Linked DNA regions of Homo sapiens: region 2 is linked to region 1. Evidence: fine-mapped expression QTL. Tissue or cell type: testis. Region 1 holds a variant in brackets; the other region holds the start of a gene. All regions are shown on one strand. Distances are from middle to middle.

The links. PIP is the estimated chance that this variant, and not a neighbour inherited with it, causes the effect.
Region 2: it holds the start of MARCHF10, and the variant in region 1 is fine-mapped to the expression of MARCHF10 in testis (GTEx, PIP 0.99).

Annotation. Positions count from the first base shown.
Region 1 is chr17:62,746,202-62,754,386 of GRCh38, forward strand. All of the region lies in intron 4 of MARCHF10 (membrane associated ring-CH-type finger 10), which reads right to left. Among named protein-coding and RNA genes, the nearest start is that of MARCHF10-AS1, 44 kb to the left of the region's middle. RefSeq lists enhancers at 3,592-4,201, 4,202-4,810. The variant A/G (reference allele first, on the strand shown) is at 4,277.
Region 2 is chr17:62,804,389-62,812,560 of GRCh38, forward strand. MARCHF10 (membrane associated ring-CH-type finger 10) reads right to left here and starts at 3,926. Exons shown (of 11, transcript NM_152598.4): 1 at 3,689-3,926. It overlaps MARCHF10-DT (MARCHF10 divergent transcript), which reads left to right and starts at 4,114. Exons shown (of 2, transcript NR_135634.1): 1 at 4,114-4,563. RefSeq lists a silencer at 3,815-3,964.

The sequences.
Region 1 (8,185 bases):
CATGGCAGTGGGTCCTGCAGGCCAAGACAGAGAGGATCATGCCCCGCAGGGAACTTACTAGAAGAGGGAAGCTGCTGGTGGTGTCGGAGCAACTTGGGGCAAGTTGGTGGAGCCCAGAGAAGTTGTAGGTGTGAAAGGAGAGAGTGAAAGTTCTCTGGAAAATGAGAAGATAGTCTTGGGATGGCGTAGGATGTTGATTAGACATGATTTTGCTGATCAAAAAGGGGGTGAGAGGAGGAAGGTGAGAGAGTGAGAGACAGAAAGACAGAGAGAGAGAGAGGGATCAGGTGTTTTACACTAAGGGATCCATCACTGAGGGAAGGAGGGAAGCATTTTCCCACTACCAAAAGTTGCATTCCTTGAACATAGAAGCTTCTCCCTTATCACCTGAGACCTCAGACCCCCTCAGTTCTCAGAAGTCCTGCCTCCTGCTTTCCAACTCATGGAGAGAAGAGGAAGAAACAGAAGAAGGGCCAGGGAAGGGGCAGGCGTGGGGCTCAGGCCAAGTCTAGAAGGTCAGGACCTGGCCCCAAGGTCCTGAGGATAAGAATTTCACTTTGATTTCCAGCAGGAATCCCAGCAGAATATTCAAAGTTCCCACGCACCCCAGGCAGCAGAACTTCACACTGCCCAGAGGCCACTGAGCCCCGCCACTGCATTCACCTTCACAGGGAGGGATGCTTCTGCTCATGGGACCTTTCTTCCCCAGACTGCACCAGCCAGAAGGTCCTCCGAGGTCTGTTTCCGGTTTATTCCACCAAGTCGGCTCTGACTCTGCTTTGGAAAAAACCCTTACTTTCAGCGTTTTTAAAAAATGGCCTTTAGTGTTTAAATATTCTAAAATTGCTTAATGAGTATGTCTTTTCTCTCCAACTAGCCTGCACGCTCCTTAAGAATGAGGATCGTCTCTCAGCCAGTCTACACGTTGCCTCATACTGCTGTGCAGGACAAGTATTAATTGCCTTGTCGTGCAGGACAAATATTAGTATGATTTGTGAGGCTTGAGAAGATGCATTCAGCCCAACTACAGGGGAACTTCAAAACTAGAACACATTTTTTTGTTGTGCAGAACGCCCAAGATGGCTTAAGATAAAAGGTTATTTAATTTGTTTTCTTGTTCAAAAAAACTGCTTTCTTCAAAGCATCAGATCTCTTAAATGATTGCCAAAACCATTACCATGTGTCCTCTAATCAAGTTCTCAGCAAACTAAAATAATAAAGCTGAACAACTGGAGATTGTTGTACTAGGCCTGGCAGTGAAGAAATCGCTGCTATTAGTGTAGGCAGGATCCTCTGACCTTTGGCAACTTTAACCTCAGTTTCTGCAACTGTAAAATGGTCCATCTTGTTACTGTGAAGTTTAGCAAAAATGTACATAAATGGCCTAACTGGTTCATGCTAGGTGCTAATAATGGTAGCTGCTTCTTCTACTGTAAAGAATACTACCACTACTACTGAGAATAATAATGGGAAATCTGAAGTCATTCCCATGAGACAACTGAATTTGACCAGAAACTCATTGTTATGCAGACTTCACAGGTTGGCAATAACTTATTCAATAGCCTTCATTCCGGTGTAGTTCTTGTTGATTCTCTCCCTCAATCCTTCTTTTATAAAATCCAAAAGGCAAATAGCAACTCTTTATATTATGATTTGTTCAACAAATACCTGTGTGCCTTTGCTATGCTATAATTTGAGGGTTCACAAAGATGAACAAGATGTTGCCTCATGACCTTAAAGATTATTATAATCTAATTTGGCTGCACTGCTGACTTCTTCCCTGTGATACCCTTTTGGTTCCATGGAAAACAAAACTCTTGCAAAATATTTTCTCTTCTCTGTCTGTAAGTGCAGTCACAAATGAGGTGACCTAGATTGCACAGTTTGTGTGTACATGGGTTTAAGAGTTTCTAGGTCCAGGCACGGTGGCTCACGCCTGTAATCCCAGCACTTTAGGAGGCCAAGGTGGGTGGATCACGAGGTCAGGAGTTCAAGCCCAGCCTGGACAAAATAGTGAAACCCCGTCTCTACTAAAAATACAAAATATTAGTTGGGCATGGTGGCACGCACCTGTAATCCCAGCTACTACGGAGGCTGAGGCAGGAGAATCACTTGAACCTGGGAGGCGGAGGTTGCAGTGAGCCGAGATCACACCACTGCACTCCAGCCTCCAGGCCGGGCGACAGTGCAAGGCTCCATCTCAAAAACAAACAAACAAACAAACAAACAAACAAAAAAGAGATTCTAACATTCAGCCAGGCATGGTGGCTCATGTCTGTAATCCTAACACTTTGGGAGGCCGAGGCAGGAAGATCACTTGAGCCCAGGAGTTTGAGACCAGCCTGGGCAACAAAGTGAGACTCCTGTCTCTACAAAAAAAGAAATAAAAAATATTAGCTGGGTGTGCTGGCACATACCTGTGGTCCTGGCTACATGGGAGGCTGAGGCAAGAGGACCATTTGAGCCCCAGGAGGTCGAGGCTGCAGTGAGCTGTGTTTGCACCACTGCACTCCAGCCTGGGCAAGAGCACGACATTGTCTAGAAAAAGAGTTTCGAACCCTCAATTTGTATACCAAGTTCCCATCACTTCACTTGCATGAAAAGTGAATCAAATTTCAGACCTTTGGGGGCTAGGATGGGTCTTTACCATGTCCATGGATTCATAATCTGCAGGAAGACCAAGTCCTATTTACCCTGGACGATGAAATTACCTTCCTTTTCAGGTAGCAGGACAAGCCCTTTGCCTTACAGAAAAGGAAGGGGTTTGTGTTCAGGAGTTTCACTGCCAGGTAACTCAATATCCTGTTTATCAATGAATTTTGGGAAGACTTTGGTTTGCTTTGGACAACATACAGACCCCCTACTTCCAGGATCTGAGAAAGGTGATGCCTCCAGTTTTAAAGAAACCAAACAGCTGTTTAGATTAAAGGCATCTGCCTCTGTTCTCTTGACAATGTTGGGAAACTGTGATTGTCGACTGAAGACTTCTTAATTTGACCAGGAAAGGGAAAAAAAAGGTAGAAATCTTATATTTGTACAAGACCCTGACAAGTGAGAACCAAGTCCATTCAGCTGTTCACGTTCGGCTCTTCCCAACACTTGTCATCCACAGATAGTTCTTTATAGACAAAGTCAAAAAGGAAGCATAAAAGGGAAATACAGTTCCGGAACCCTTATCCCGCCCCACATTACTTTGACTGGGATCTCTGGTGCCTAGGAGGTGCCAAGATCCCAATGGAGAGACAACTCTTTGAAAAAAAAAGTGTGCTTTCTTTGGATCCTGGGAAGAATTACAGCTTAATCGCAGGAGCCAATGTTGCCTTGGGGTAATAGGCAGCTTTCTGTGCAGTCACAAATAATAGGTCGCGTCTATTTGCCTATTTGAGTGTGCGAGAAATGTGTGTTGTCTCATGTACCCAGAGGAGATCTTAATTAAAGCTTAATTATGTACCATAAATATGTTTTATTTTGGAACTCAGGGGTGGGATTTTTGATTTTAGGAAATGTGATGCCTAATAAGTAGGCAGGAAAGGGAATGTAAACATCGGCTGAGCCTTTTCATTTGTCCCTCCTCCGAGTGGTTCTGAATGGGTTTTGGTTCCAGTGTGTGCCTTCAGAACGGCCTGCCCCCGGTGCCACCGCTCAGGGCGGCCTCGGCGTGTGCACATTCACATAGCCAAGGGTATGATCAGACGCATTAGGAGAGCCTGTTTGGTTTCTGGGGGTGACATTGCACAGCGTGCCAGCTACAGGAGGTAAGAAATCAAATGAGTCTCCAGAGAGGATGGGATTTTATTGGTCGCTCGCTCCTTTGGCGCTAGAAGGTGCAGCCCCAGTGCAGTGGCCACGCTGTCCCATCTTCCTGCTCCCCCGAACACCACGCCGCCTGGTATTGTTCTTGGTGTGGCCTCTGGCCCCTCTCCTGTCCACCTGCCTTCCGGAAGCCCGAAGTCCCCTCTCCCCGACTGCGCTGTGCTGTGTGCCTTGCAAGAGTGACTTACCACATGAGGTAAATCCTACTGGGCCTTCTGGGGCCCTGAAGGCACAGCACAGGGGTCTCAGCCGGAGTGGGGCAGGAGATGGGGAAGTAGCACAGCACGGCGGGGGACTCGGGCACGGGGTCCGGGGAGGTGGAAGCGGTGCTTGTGAAGGAGGGAACGGTAACCAGAGGGAGAGGACAGTCAGGAGGTTCCTGGGCCACTGGGGAGGCAGGTGGCACTAGTGGCAGGAGGAGGCAGCAGTAATTGGTATTGGGCTGCAGGACAGGGGAGAAAGC[A/G]AAGACGGAGCAGTAAGGGGTGTATTCAACACAGAACAGGGGGTGCTTGCTGCTGCCACCTGCACAAAAGAAAAAGAGCAGTCAGGAAGCAGCACTGGCGGTGGGGGGAAGGACATAGAAACGTCTGCGAATGAATCCAAACTCAAAAATTGTTCTCCAATGTCATAGGAGCAGCAGGCCTGGCTCCTGCCCAGGAGGCACCTGGCCTAGATCTCAGCGTCACTGCGGAGTTAACCAAGGGAAGCGGCACCAGCATCACACCCTGTTCCAGCCAACAGTCTCCAGCGTCCCTGACAGATGTCGGGAAGTTCTTTTCCCCGTAAGATCCCGGAGAATGTCCTGAGGCTGCCGTGTGGAAGCTCTGGGGCCTTTCTCGTCTCCCACTGCCAGCTTAATGAGCTGTGCTGGTAGCAACAGATGGCGCCCCGCAGGGTCTCACTTGGGTAAGGCTCTCTCCCTCAATCCTCCAGCTGCCCCCGCTAGCAGGCTGTAGTCATGCCCTGATCTGGCCTTTCTGCTGCGGAGGGGAAGCTTGGGAAAAAGAGAAAGAAAGGAGAGAGATCCCGGCGGGATCATGCGAAGGGAGAAAAATCAAGCTGGGTGAAAAGCAGGTAAACAAGAGAGATGTCTCGTTGAAGCTGATGATCTGTTCACTAACCTCACGCTCAAACTGCTAACCTCGCTGGAGGCAGAATACGGGTGCCTGATGGAGTCATGAGTCAGAGCTACCCCCTCACGCCTGACAAATCTCAGCTTTGCCACTAACCAGCTGGGTCACCTTGAATCGACGGCTTACCTGCCCGGAACCTGTTTCCTCACCTGCAAAACGAGACGGGTGTTTTTTCTAGCCTTGCTCCTTCAAAGGTGGTTCACAGACCAGCCACATCGATGTCACCTGGGACTTCTTAGCAATGCAGGATCTCAGCCCACCCAGACCTTCTGAATCAGAATCTGTAGTTGCTCAAGAGCCCCAGGTGTTTCTCATGAATGTTAATGTTTGGAAAAGCAAGGATCTGAGACAGCTGCCCAAACCCTGGTGATGAGAATCACCTGTTGTTCTTGTTCAAAAATAGTTTCGCAGGCCCCTTTACTGGAGATTCTGATGCTGTGGGTCAGGGACAGGAAGCAGGAATTTTTATTTTTATGAAGAACCTCCCTGGTGATTTTTATTGTCAAAAAAGTTTGGGAGATGCTGCAGCTAAAATCAGTTCCAAGTCTAAAATCCACAGTTGTAGCCATCCAGTTGAAAACTATCACCTAAGGCTGGGCGTGGTGGCTCACGCCTGTAATCCCAGCACTTTGGGAGACCGAAGCAGGCGGATTACTTGAGGTCAGGAGTTCGATACCAGCCTGGCCAACAGGGAGAAACCCCATCTCTACTAAAAATACAAAATTAGCCGGGCATGGTGGCGCATGCCTGTAATCTCAGCTATTTGGGAGGCTGAGGCAGGAGAATCGCTTGAACCTGGGAGGCAGAGGTTTCAGTGAGCCGCGATCGGGCTATTGCACTCCAGCCTGGGTGACAGAGCAAGACTCCATCTCAAAAAAGAAAAAAAAAAAAAGAAGAAAAGAAAACCATTACCTATCGTGGAGGGGTCTCAGTCCTTAGTGCCATGCTACAGAGGATTCGAGTAAATATTATCCACTTCTTTCTTCCTAAATGGCCTCTGGAGTGGCTCCTATTTCTCGGGATCATTTTTCTCTCTCTAGCTGTCTTCACTCATTCTTCTCTTTACAGTTGTTATCTCCCAAAGTCCCCCCAACATCTCTCTTCTTACTCCATCCACTCAGGGGAGACATTCTTGCCATTTCAGCCACCTCTTACTCACTGCAGGCCCTTGGGTCCTACCAGCAAGTGCTCTGGGAGGAAGGGGAGTGCTCTGTTGGGCAGGAGACCTGGGTCCCCAGGTGCTTCCTGGCATTGCCACCTGGCTGCCCTGCCTGCAGCTCAAAGGCAACACCGCAAAAGGGGACCCACCCTCTCCTTGCTTCCTCAGCCTTGGCAGAGGCAACCTCCACTGACCTAGTTTCCTGGGCCAGATTCCTGAGTTCTCTTTGATTCCTCTTTCTTCCTTATCCCTACATCCAAGTCACCAAGTTCTGCCAGCTTTACTTCTTAAATGGCCCTCAAGCCCACTCCCTCTTCCTATTCCCTCTGCTTTTTTTTTTTTTAATAGAGATGGGGTCTTGCTATGTTGACCAGACTGGTCTTGAACTCCTGGCCTCAAGCAATCCTCCCATCTCAGCCTCCCAAAGTGCTAGGATTCCTTACAGGTGTGAACCACTGCATCTGGCCCTCTTCCTTTTGCTTTTGCTCCCGCTCAAGCCCTTCTCATTTCTCCCCCATCCCCTGCAACTGCTACTTGTCTGGTCTCTTGGCTGTGTCTGGCCACCCTCACACTCTCAGCTGGCCCTTCTCCATGCTGCAGTCAGAGTCAGCTTTTAAAAATCCAATCTGATTGCATCACTTTCCTATGCAGAGCCCTTCCAGGACTGATGCCCCGTCGCCTCCAGCATGACATTTAAGGCCCTTGGAGGCCTGATCCTTGCCTACCGGTGGGGCCTCAACTTTATATTTCCTAATTTGTAGCCTGACCCTAAACCAGAAACCAGAGCTTCTCTCTCTCTCTCTCTCTTTTTGAGATGGAGCCTTGCTCTGTCGCCCAGGCTGGAGTGTGGAGTGCAGTCACGTGATCTCAGCTCACTGCAACCTCTGCCTTCTGGGTTCAAGCGATTCTCCTGCCTCAGTCTCCCGAGTAGATGAGATTACAGGTGCGCACCACTACATCTGGCTAATTTTTGTATTTTTAGTAGAGATGGGGTTTCATCATGTTGACCAGGCTGGTCTTGAACTCCTGACCTCAAGTGATCCACCCACCTTAGCCTCCCAAAGCGCTGGGATTACAGGCGTGAGCCACCACGCCTGGCCCTAAACCACAACTTCTGAAACTCAAATGTACATAGGAATATCCCTGAGATCTTCTTCAATGCAGGTTCTGAGCCAGTCAGTCTGGACTGGGGCCTGAGGTTCTGCATTTCTAAGAAGCTCTCAGATGATGGTTTCTGCTACTTGCCTGGGGACACTTGGAGCACAAGGCCCTAGATTATCTGTAGCTCCTCGATATGTGTCTCTCCCTGTCTTCCTTGCTCCCTCTCCTCCGTTCCTTTGCACACTCAGTACCTGCTGCCAGGCACATCTTTCTTGCCCTCTTCACCTGGTTAAACCCCTGTCCTTCAGGATTTTCACTCCACCTGGCCCTGCCCACAAGCTCTTAGAACTTACCTTGGTCAGGGTGCGCCTTGCACTATCTGCCCTTATTGGAATCCTGCTCACCCACCAGGCTGGGAGCCCTGGAGGGCAGGCCCCGTGTGTTTTGTGTTCTGGTTCCCCATTACCCGGCAGGTAAATACGTATAAATGAAGTGCTGAATGAATGAGCAGTGGATGAGTACACCAGTTCGCCCTGGTATCATACACCCTGGGACGTGGGGGACAGTTGGATGTATTTGCTAACATCCCCATAGGTACTGGATAAACGGATGACTTCACTGATGATCAAATCGTTAAAATTTTTAATAATCAAATTATAACCACTTTTTTTGTTGTTGTTGTCGAGACATGGTTTCACTCTGTCGCCCAGGCTGGAGTGCAGTGACACAATCTCGGCTCACTGCAACCTCCTCCTCCCGGGTTCAAGCGATTCTCGTACCTCAGCTTCCCAAGTAGCTGGGATTACAGGCATATGCCACCACACTCAGCTAATTTTTGTATTTTTAGTAGAGACAGGGTTTCACCATGTTGGCCAGGCTGGTTTCTAACTCCCAACCTCAGGTGATCCGCTTGCCTTGGCCTCCCAGAGTGCTCGGATTACAGGCATGAGCCACTGCGCCCGGCCAAATTCTAACCACT
Region 2 (8,172 bases), 58 kb after region 1:
ACAAAACCTCGTGAAGAACACGAATATTTAGAGAACAAGCCGCTGAAGAGAAACTCTGCGGAAAAAAAAGAAAAAGCCAGAGAGGCAGGAAGAAACCAGGTGGGTGCCGTTTCAGAGATGCCCAGAAGAGAGGGTTTCAAAAAGGAGGCTATTAATAACCTTGGTGAGAGCATTCATTGGAGTGACGGGGCTGGGAGGGCTGCAGAAGGTTGCGTAAATGGGAGGCAAAGGCGTGGAGATCATGCTTTCAAGAAGTTTGGCTTTGACTGGCATGGCCCAAATTTATGGCCAAGATATCTAAGCTCACAAAGGGATAAAATGGCACTGTTAATAACGACCCCTCATCTATGGGGTCATCAAAGCCCCCACACTATTCCTGTTTGTTGTCTACTGAAGCTCTTTCATTTATTTCTACACACACACACACACACATATTTTTTACAACTGCTGTGTGTGACAAGGGCTGCTAGGCTCTGGGGAAACATCAGGATGGGACAGGCGACATCTCTACCTTCAGGTGTATACGTTCTGCGGCATTCCCTCGCTCCTCCTGTTTATTCAGTTGTGCAGATATTGGCAGAGTCAGGCCGCCCCGGACTCATGGTGACCCAGCGTCTGGTCTGGTAGTTATGAAATCTCACATGGTTTATCATCTGGCCCTGAACAATGGGGAAAACTTGTGCTCGTCTCTTGGGGGCTATTTTCTCTGGAGTATGGAAAGTTGGTCTTTTGACAGTCAGAATCTGAAACTACAATCCAATGTGTATTTCCAGTCTACACACAAAACATACATTTTGTCTCTAAGCATTTTAATAATCACTTATGGGACTATGTTTTAAAAGATCACTTTTAGCTTTTCATCTGAATGTGTACCTGCATAGAATGAAGTTACCTTTGCACTCTTTTCAGAAAACGATGGTGTTAAAACAGGCAGAAGGATAAGCTCCTGCTGCTACTGTGGGAAAGAGAAGCCTGTCTGAATCTTATTCAGGCAGAGACCATAAAGACTCATAATAAAAATATGTTAATGGTCACTAAAGGGGAGCATCCCAGAGTCCACTTGGATGATACATTTTGGTTGCCAAAGTTAATATAGAAAGCCGGTTAATCTATCACGGCTTTAGAGCAGGGTTAATTTAAGGAGGCTTCTAAGTCAAGAGGCATGAAATAACTTTGTCTAAATAGGAAGTAGCACCCTTTGAATTACTTGCTAAGTTACCTCTGACTTCACAATCACCTACCAAATAAAGGACTTTAAAATGCCTGTAATCCCAGCACTTACAGAGGCCAAGGCAGGTGGATCACTTGAGGTCAGGAGTTCGAGATCGGCCTGGCCAACGTGGCAAAACCCCATCTTTACTAAAAATACAAAAATTTGCTGGGCGTGGTGGTGCACTCCTGTAGTCCCAGCTACTTGGGAGGCTGAGACAGAAGAATCACTTGAACCTGGAAGGCGGAGGTTGCAGTGAGCCAAGATCGCACCACTGCACTCCAGAGAGAGACTCCATCCCCTCAAAAATAAAAAAAAATAATAATAATAATAATAAAATAATAAAAATAAAATTGCCTACAAAAGTCTCTCTTCCTTCCCATAAACTCTCTATTACATTGTATTTTACAATATTTAGAAACATCGTGGTGCCACATGTAATTTTTTATTTAAATACATCAAGTCTTCATGAGATTAAACAAATATTACGGGAACCAAGAAAACGGTATTAGTGTCAGACCAAGAAGATGGTGGGTTACCTCAGTATAAGCAAACATTCTCTGTGTTTGCTTGAAGTTCATACTGCACTCAGTCAGTTTGAAAAACTGACCAGGATGAACAAGAAACAGAAATAACAGTATGGAAATAAAACTACATGAGATAATGCTTAATTCATGGATCTCAGCTTTGTGGGCCTACTCAACCAGATGGCCACTTGAAGCCAAGAATTTTTCCCCAGCAAACACAGAGGGTTGGGGTGGGGGTGATAATAAAATGTGAGCAAGGCGCATGTTTCTAAAATAGCACTCTGTATTCTCTTCTATCGCTCACCTTTGAACTGCTTCTTAATTTAAAACCCACTCATGGTTATGCACACTTCTGTTTTAAGTCTTTCTGGTGATAATGTCTTGTGCCAAATCTGTGCTTTAGAAATCAACATAAGAAGCCATATTAAGTAGGGAGAGAGAAAGGAGGAGGGAGTTGGAGGCAGGTGGAGAAGGAAGGAGGGGGTCCTGCCTTGCTGAAAGCAAGAGCGAGTAATTCTTCTTGGCCTCAAAATTCTACATATCTGTGAAATTTTAATGGGGGAATATTCTAAGAACTTTGTGACATACACGTTCTTCTCTAGTGTAATTTTCCAGTGAATTCCAACCAAGTTTTCCTGACTGAGGGGAACAGAATCTGATTGCAGAATGTTTTTCAGTGCTCTAAAAGTCATGCATACGTACCATCCCTCTGTTTTATGACCACATTTGTCAAAAGAACTGATTTGAAGGAGCCTGTTCTTAATAACAATCAAAGTCTTATTGGTTTCTTACTATGTTCTCATAAGAGAAAGACATCACTAAAGTTAATATGCTGTTAAGCAATAAAGGAAATGTAAACAATCTAACCTCCTCCTTAGACGGAAGGTTGCTTTGAAATAAAATCTAAATGGCTATTGTTAATACCGGACAATCAGGCTCGAAAATTACTCCCTTTCCACAATTAGGTGATTGGAGAAGGATTTCAGGAGACCTTATTCAACCTTTTCCCCAATTGATTAATTTGTAATGTCAGACATTATAGGATTTGTTTAAATCTTAGCTCTAAAAAAAACTTTGCATTTTAAAGTCTTAGCTTATAAACATGTCTTGAGTATAAGCAACAAAGTTTACGATTTGGGCCCAATTTAAGAATACTGTGACTGCAGAGAAAAAGGGGGAATTGGTTGGGAAAGGTAAGGAGATCTTTCAACTCTTCCAGCCAATTTGGCTTAAGAGTTGGGGGCGGGGTGGAGGGTGGGGAACAGACTTGTGTTTGGCGGTGACTCTTCATTTTACTGTGAAACTAGGAGAGATAGGTGGTCACATTTCGACCATCAAGCCCAGAAGAGAGGAGAAACTCAACGTGTAATTGGGAAACTCTGGGGGAGGAAACGTCACAGGTTTGACAAGCAATTCAGTGCCATCATTAATAACAATATCCAGCCAGAGAAACATAACGAGACCCCTTCTTTACAAATAATTTAAAACATTAGCCAGACATGGTGTTGGCCTGTGGTCCCAGCTACCACCGGGAGGCTGAGGCGGGAGGATCGCTTGAGCCTGGGAGGTCGAGGCTGCAGTGAGCCCTGACTGCACCGCTGCACTCCAACCTGGGAGACAGAGCGAGACTCCTTCTCAAAAATAAACAAAATCAATATCGACCATTTCGCATTCAGAAGCCCAGTGGGCCATGGTCTGTGTATACCTTTTCTGACCAGTGGCGTCTGCAGGAAAGAATGTGGGTGCCAGTGAGCAAAGGTTCACGGTCTCCCCCAAACCTGTCCCTCTGAGACAGAAAAATGCTGGGGCTGGGGTCAGCCGAGGGGAGGGGACGGCCAGGCCACCGGATGTCAGGCCCGGTTTCCCTCCAGAATCTTGTAAGTCGAAAGGGAAGGTTGTCCCCCATCCTGGGAGAACTGGAGCGGAGCGGCGGGGGCGAGGGGGCCGTTACCTGTGGGTCTGCCCTTCCTCCCCTGCCGGGGCTACAGGGGTCGAGGGGCTGGGCGGGCGGGCCGGTCCAGGGCGCAGGAGCCGCCCATTAATTGCGCGGGGACGGCCCTGAGCTCCTCTTCCTCCTCCTCTTTTTGCTTCTTCACTCCCTACACCTGCCCCTCTTCCTCCTCCTTCCCCGAGGCTGCTTTCCGCGGCGCCGGCCGGCCTTGCCTGGGGCGGAGGCGGTGGGGGCGGCTACCGGGCGTCCTCCGGTTTCCCTAGCAACCGCGCCTCCCCGCCCCCGCGCGACCAGGTGCAGCCGCCGAGAGCACGGGGCGGGGCGGGGCGGGGCTGTGGCCCCGGGGTCCCAAGCCAGTCGTGGGCGCCCGCCGGTTGCCGTGGGAACGAGGCGGGCTGCAGTCGGGGAGTCAGAGCCACGCTGGTGGGCAGAGAAGAGATGCCCAAGGAGGAGGCGGTTGGCTTTGTCTGGGTGCCCAAGCCCAGACCCAGATATCCAGGCCTCTGCTCCCTTCCCTGAAAGGGTGCTGTGCTTCATAAAAAATGAGATTAGAAAACGAGAGAGGAAAATATTTTTAATGGAATCAGGGAATGTGAAAAGCGGTACATGCGAAGAGGAAAAGATACTGCAGTCCTGGAGTTCGACCTCTGCAGAGGACATCTGGAATGCTCTGGTCCAACACGAAAAAGAAGAAATAAGCGATGAAGCCAGGCACCCAGTCAGTGGCAGAACCGACATTAGAGCCCAGGCCTCTTCGTAATCAGTCGTCTTCACCCCCTTTCCAAGGAGAGAGGTGCTTAGAGGCCTAGACCAGGCCCTACAGCTTTGGAGCCAGGGCACCAGAACCGCTACTACCCTCACCTTCTCTGTGCCAGGTTGATTTCTTTCTTTTTCTTTTCTTTTCTTTTCTTTTTTTTCTTTCTTTCTTTTTTTTTTTTTTAGACAGAGTCTTGCTCTGTAGCTCAGGCTGGACAGTGCAGTGGCACGATCTTGGCTCACTGCAACCTCTGCCTCCGGGGCTCAAGCGATTTTCATGCTTCAGCCGTCCGAGTAGCTGGGATTACAGGCATGCGCCACCACACCCGGCTAGTTTTTGTATTTTTTTTTTTTTTTTAAGTAGAGACGGGGTTTCTCCATGTTGGCCAGGCTGGTCTCGAACTCCTGACCTCAAGTGATCCGCCCGCCTGGGCCTCCGAAAGTGCTGGGATTACAGGCATGAGCCACCTTGCCCGGCTTTGCCGGGTTGATGTCTGTCTGTGGTTCTCATGGGCAAAGATGACTCCCCTATTTACTTTGCATATTTAGGCTCTCAACTTGTCAACTGATGTCAAGTTAGGGTATTTTTGATTGAGTGGAGAGTAAGGTAAAGGAAGAATAGAAATTCTTGGAACTTTCATCAGTGCCCGGAATCCCTAGGTGTCTGTGGTTTGACCGTCTTCTCAACACCTCCCCTTCCCCCCATTCAGTTGGTGCCAAGTCCTTGGCAGCGTCACATTCTTCTTTCTATTCTTATCACTCTAGTTTTGGGCTCCATGACCTAGTTTTGGGCTCCATGGATTATTCTGAGGGCCTCCTGGTCACACCCTGGGCGCCTGTCCTCCACACCCTATCTTCACCATTTCCCCCATCCTATAAGCAGCCTACATCTAATGTTGCTGGCCCCCTGCTTAAAAAGCCCTGAAAGGTTCCTCACCGCCTGTGGAATGAAGTCCAAACTCGTCACTATGACTTTCCCTGTGCCCTCCCCCACAGTTTCCTTTCTTGGTTTTTCCCCTTCATCACTTCTTCACTCATACTTCAGCCAGATGGGACTATGTGTTACACACTGAACATTTTTCCTTGCCTTCACACCAGCTTCAAAGACATATCATGAGCTGGGCAGAGTCTAGACAAATGTACTTAGCTGAAGTCTTTCCACTGGGCACTTTCCCATCTGAACTTCGCTGGTCCTCCAGCAGACCCTAGGATCTTTTCATCTCTAGTAGCCCAGTCCATATTCTGTTCTTGTTCTCAGCTGATTATCAAGTATTCCTTAGTAAAGCATTAACTGATAATTGAAGTATTAACTGATAAGGATGTAACCTAAGAACTTGCCTCATGGTTTTTGCCTTTCAAAAGGATATGCTTTGGGCCAGGCATGGTGGCTCACGCTTGTAATCCCAGCACTTTGGGAGGCCGAGGCAGGGGGATCACCTGAGGTCAGGAGTTTTGAGACCAGCCTGGCCAACATGGTGAAACCCCATCTCAACTAGAAATACAAAAATTAGCCAGGTGTGCTGGCAGCCACCTGTAAACCCAGCTACTCAGGAAGCTGAGGCAGGAGAATTGCTTGAACCCAGGAGGCGGAGGTTGCACTCCAGCCTGGGCGACAAGAAACTCTGTCTCAAAAAAAAAAAAAAAAGTTTGGATGCGCACACTGGGTTGAAACTATAATAGTGAAATGATAGGTAGGGAGCTTGTTCTGTTGGCGCGAGGACCCACCTCAAATAAAAATAACAGAGGAGGAAGTTGAAGCCCAGGTTCTCACCTTGTTGAAGGTAAGGGACATGACCAGAACATATGGTAAGTACCAGAACCAGGGTTCAAAAACAGGGCTTTCCATCTCCAGTAACTTGATGTTGCCCACTACTAAGAAAAGCACCTTGGTACTTCCTGTACCCAGACAAGATCTATTAAAATAATACTATCTATCTCAAAAGCTTGCTGTGGGAATTAAATGAGAGAGGACAAGCAAAGCATTTCACATCATGCTTGGCACATAGCACTCAATAATTGGTAGCTTTGCTTTATAAGGCATAACTTAAGATTTTATTGCATGTGAATGTTAACCGTAAATATTTAAAGATTTTTATTTATTTTTAATTTTTTAATTTTTTTTTTTTTTGAGCCAGAGTCTGTCACCCAGGCTGGAGTGTTATAGCGCGATCTTGGCTCACTGTAACTGCCGCATCCCAGGTTCAAGCGATTCTCCTGCCTCAGCCTCCTGAGTAGCTGGGACTACAAGCACGTGCCACCATGCCCAGCTAATTTTTGTATTTTTAGTAGATACAGAGTTTTGCCAGGTTGACCAGGCCAGTCTCAAACTCCTGACATCAGGTGATCCACCCTCTTCGGCCCCCACAAAGTGCTGGGATTATAGGTGTGAGCCACTGTGCCCAGCCTAAAGATTTTTAAATAACAAGGTCTGGAGAAGTCACTTCATATCTCAGCTTTAAACTCTTCCACATGTCAAGTGTTCTTGAAAATTAAGTTATATGAAAAAATCATGGTGCCTTTGAAAGAGGGTAATAGTGCCCAAGGTCAGCTCATAAAAAGCTATAGAGCAACTCCAACTTTAGTGTTTAATGAGTAAATTTAAGCTAGGCATGTAAATTACAAATAAGATTAGTTCTGGCATTAAAAAGCAAAGTCCTTAGGAGGAGAAATATTAAAATGAAGAAGAAAAACTTCTCCTGGTTGGGGAAAGGATCCTACTCTTCATTATTTCCTGCACAATGTTCCTGGTAGAGATGAATAAGTAAACAAAAAAACTTAAGACTTAAGTGGATGGTAGATTCTAATGCTCCCTCCTGCTGATCTAACAAAATACCTTAGACTAGCTAATTTGTAAACAACAGAAGTGTATTGCTTACAGTTCTGGAGGCTGGGAAGTCCAAGATCAGGTCATCTGCAGATTTGGTGTCTGGTGAGGGCTCACTGTGTTTTGTATATAGCATCTTCCCTTTGCATCCTCATATGGTGGAAGGGACAAACTCCCTCAAGCCTCTTTTATAAGGGCCCTAATACCATTCATCATGGTGAAGTCCTCATGACCTAGTCACCTCCCAAATGGCCCGCCTCTTAATACCACTACAATGGGAATTAAGAGTCAACATGAATTTTGGAAGGACCTAAGCATTCAGACCATAGCAAGCATGAAAAAGTTCTTTAATTATATCTAAGAGTTCTGCAAAGAACAACTTCAAGTATAAAGTTTCAAAAGTAGACTGTGTATTAAGTTTCAGAAATAACACTTTTGAGGGAAATATTTAATGCAAAGAGTAAGCTGTGCAGAGGAATAGGCATACATTCTAAGTCTCCCAAGGTTTTTGAGACAGGGATATCCAACAGCTTCATGGACACCTGGCCCAGCTACTCACTTGAGCTGGAGCACCCCACCCTCTATCTGCCTAATATTTTCTCTTCCTAAGAGAGAGAGAGAGTCTAACTAAAAGAGTCTCTTTGTAACTAACTATTCAGAAGCTCTCCTATTGGGCATAGAGTTTTATGCCAAGTGACTTCAGAAGCAGATGGCCTCCCTCAGATACAACTTAAACTTGGTCATTTTTGCCTTGGTCATGGGATCTCGCCATGACTAATGGGTTCCTGTTCTCATCATTGAGGCCAGTGTGGTGTTGCCTTCATCCATGCACACAGCATGAACTGCGGCAGTTTGTTTGCAAAAAGAATCTCTAGGAATAGCTTTCCTGAGAAGGGAACTGTGG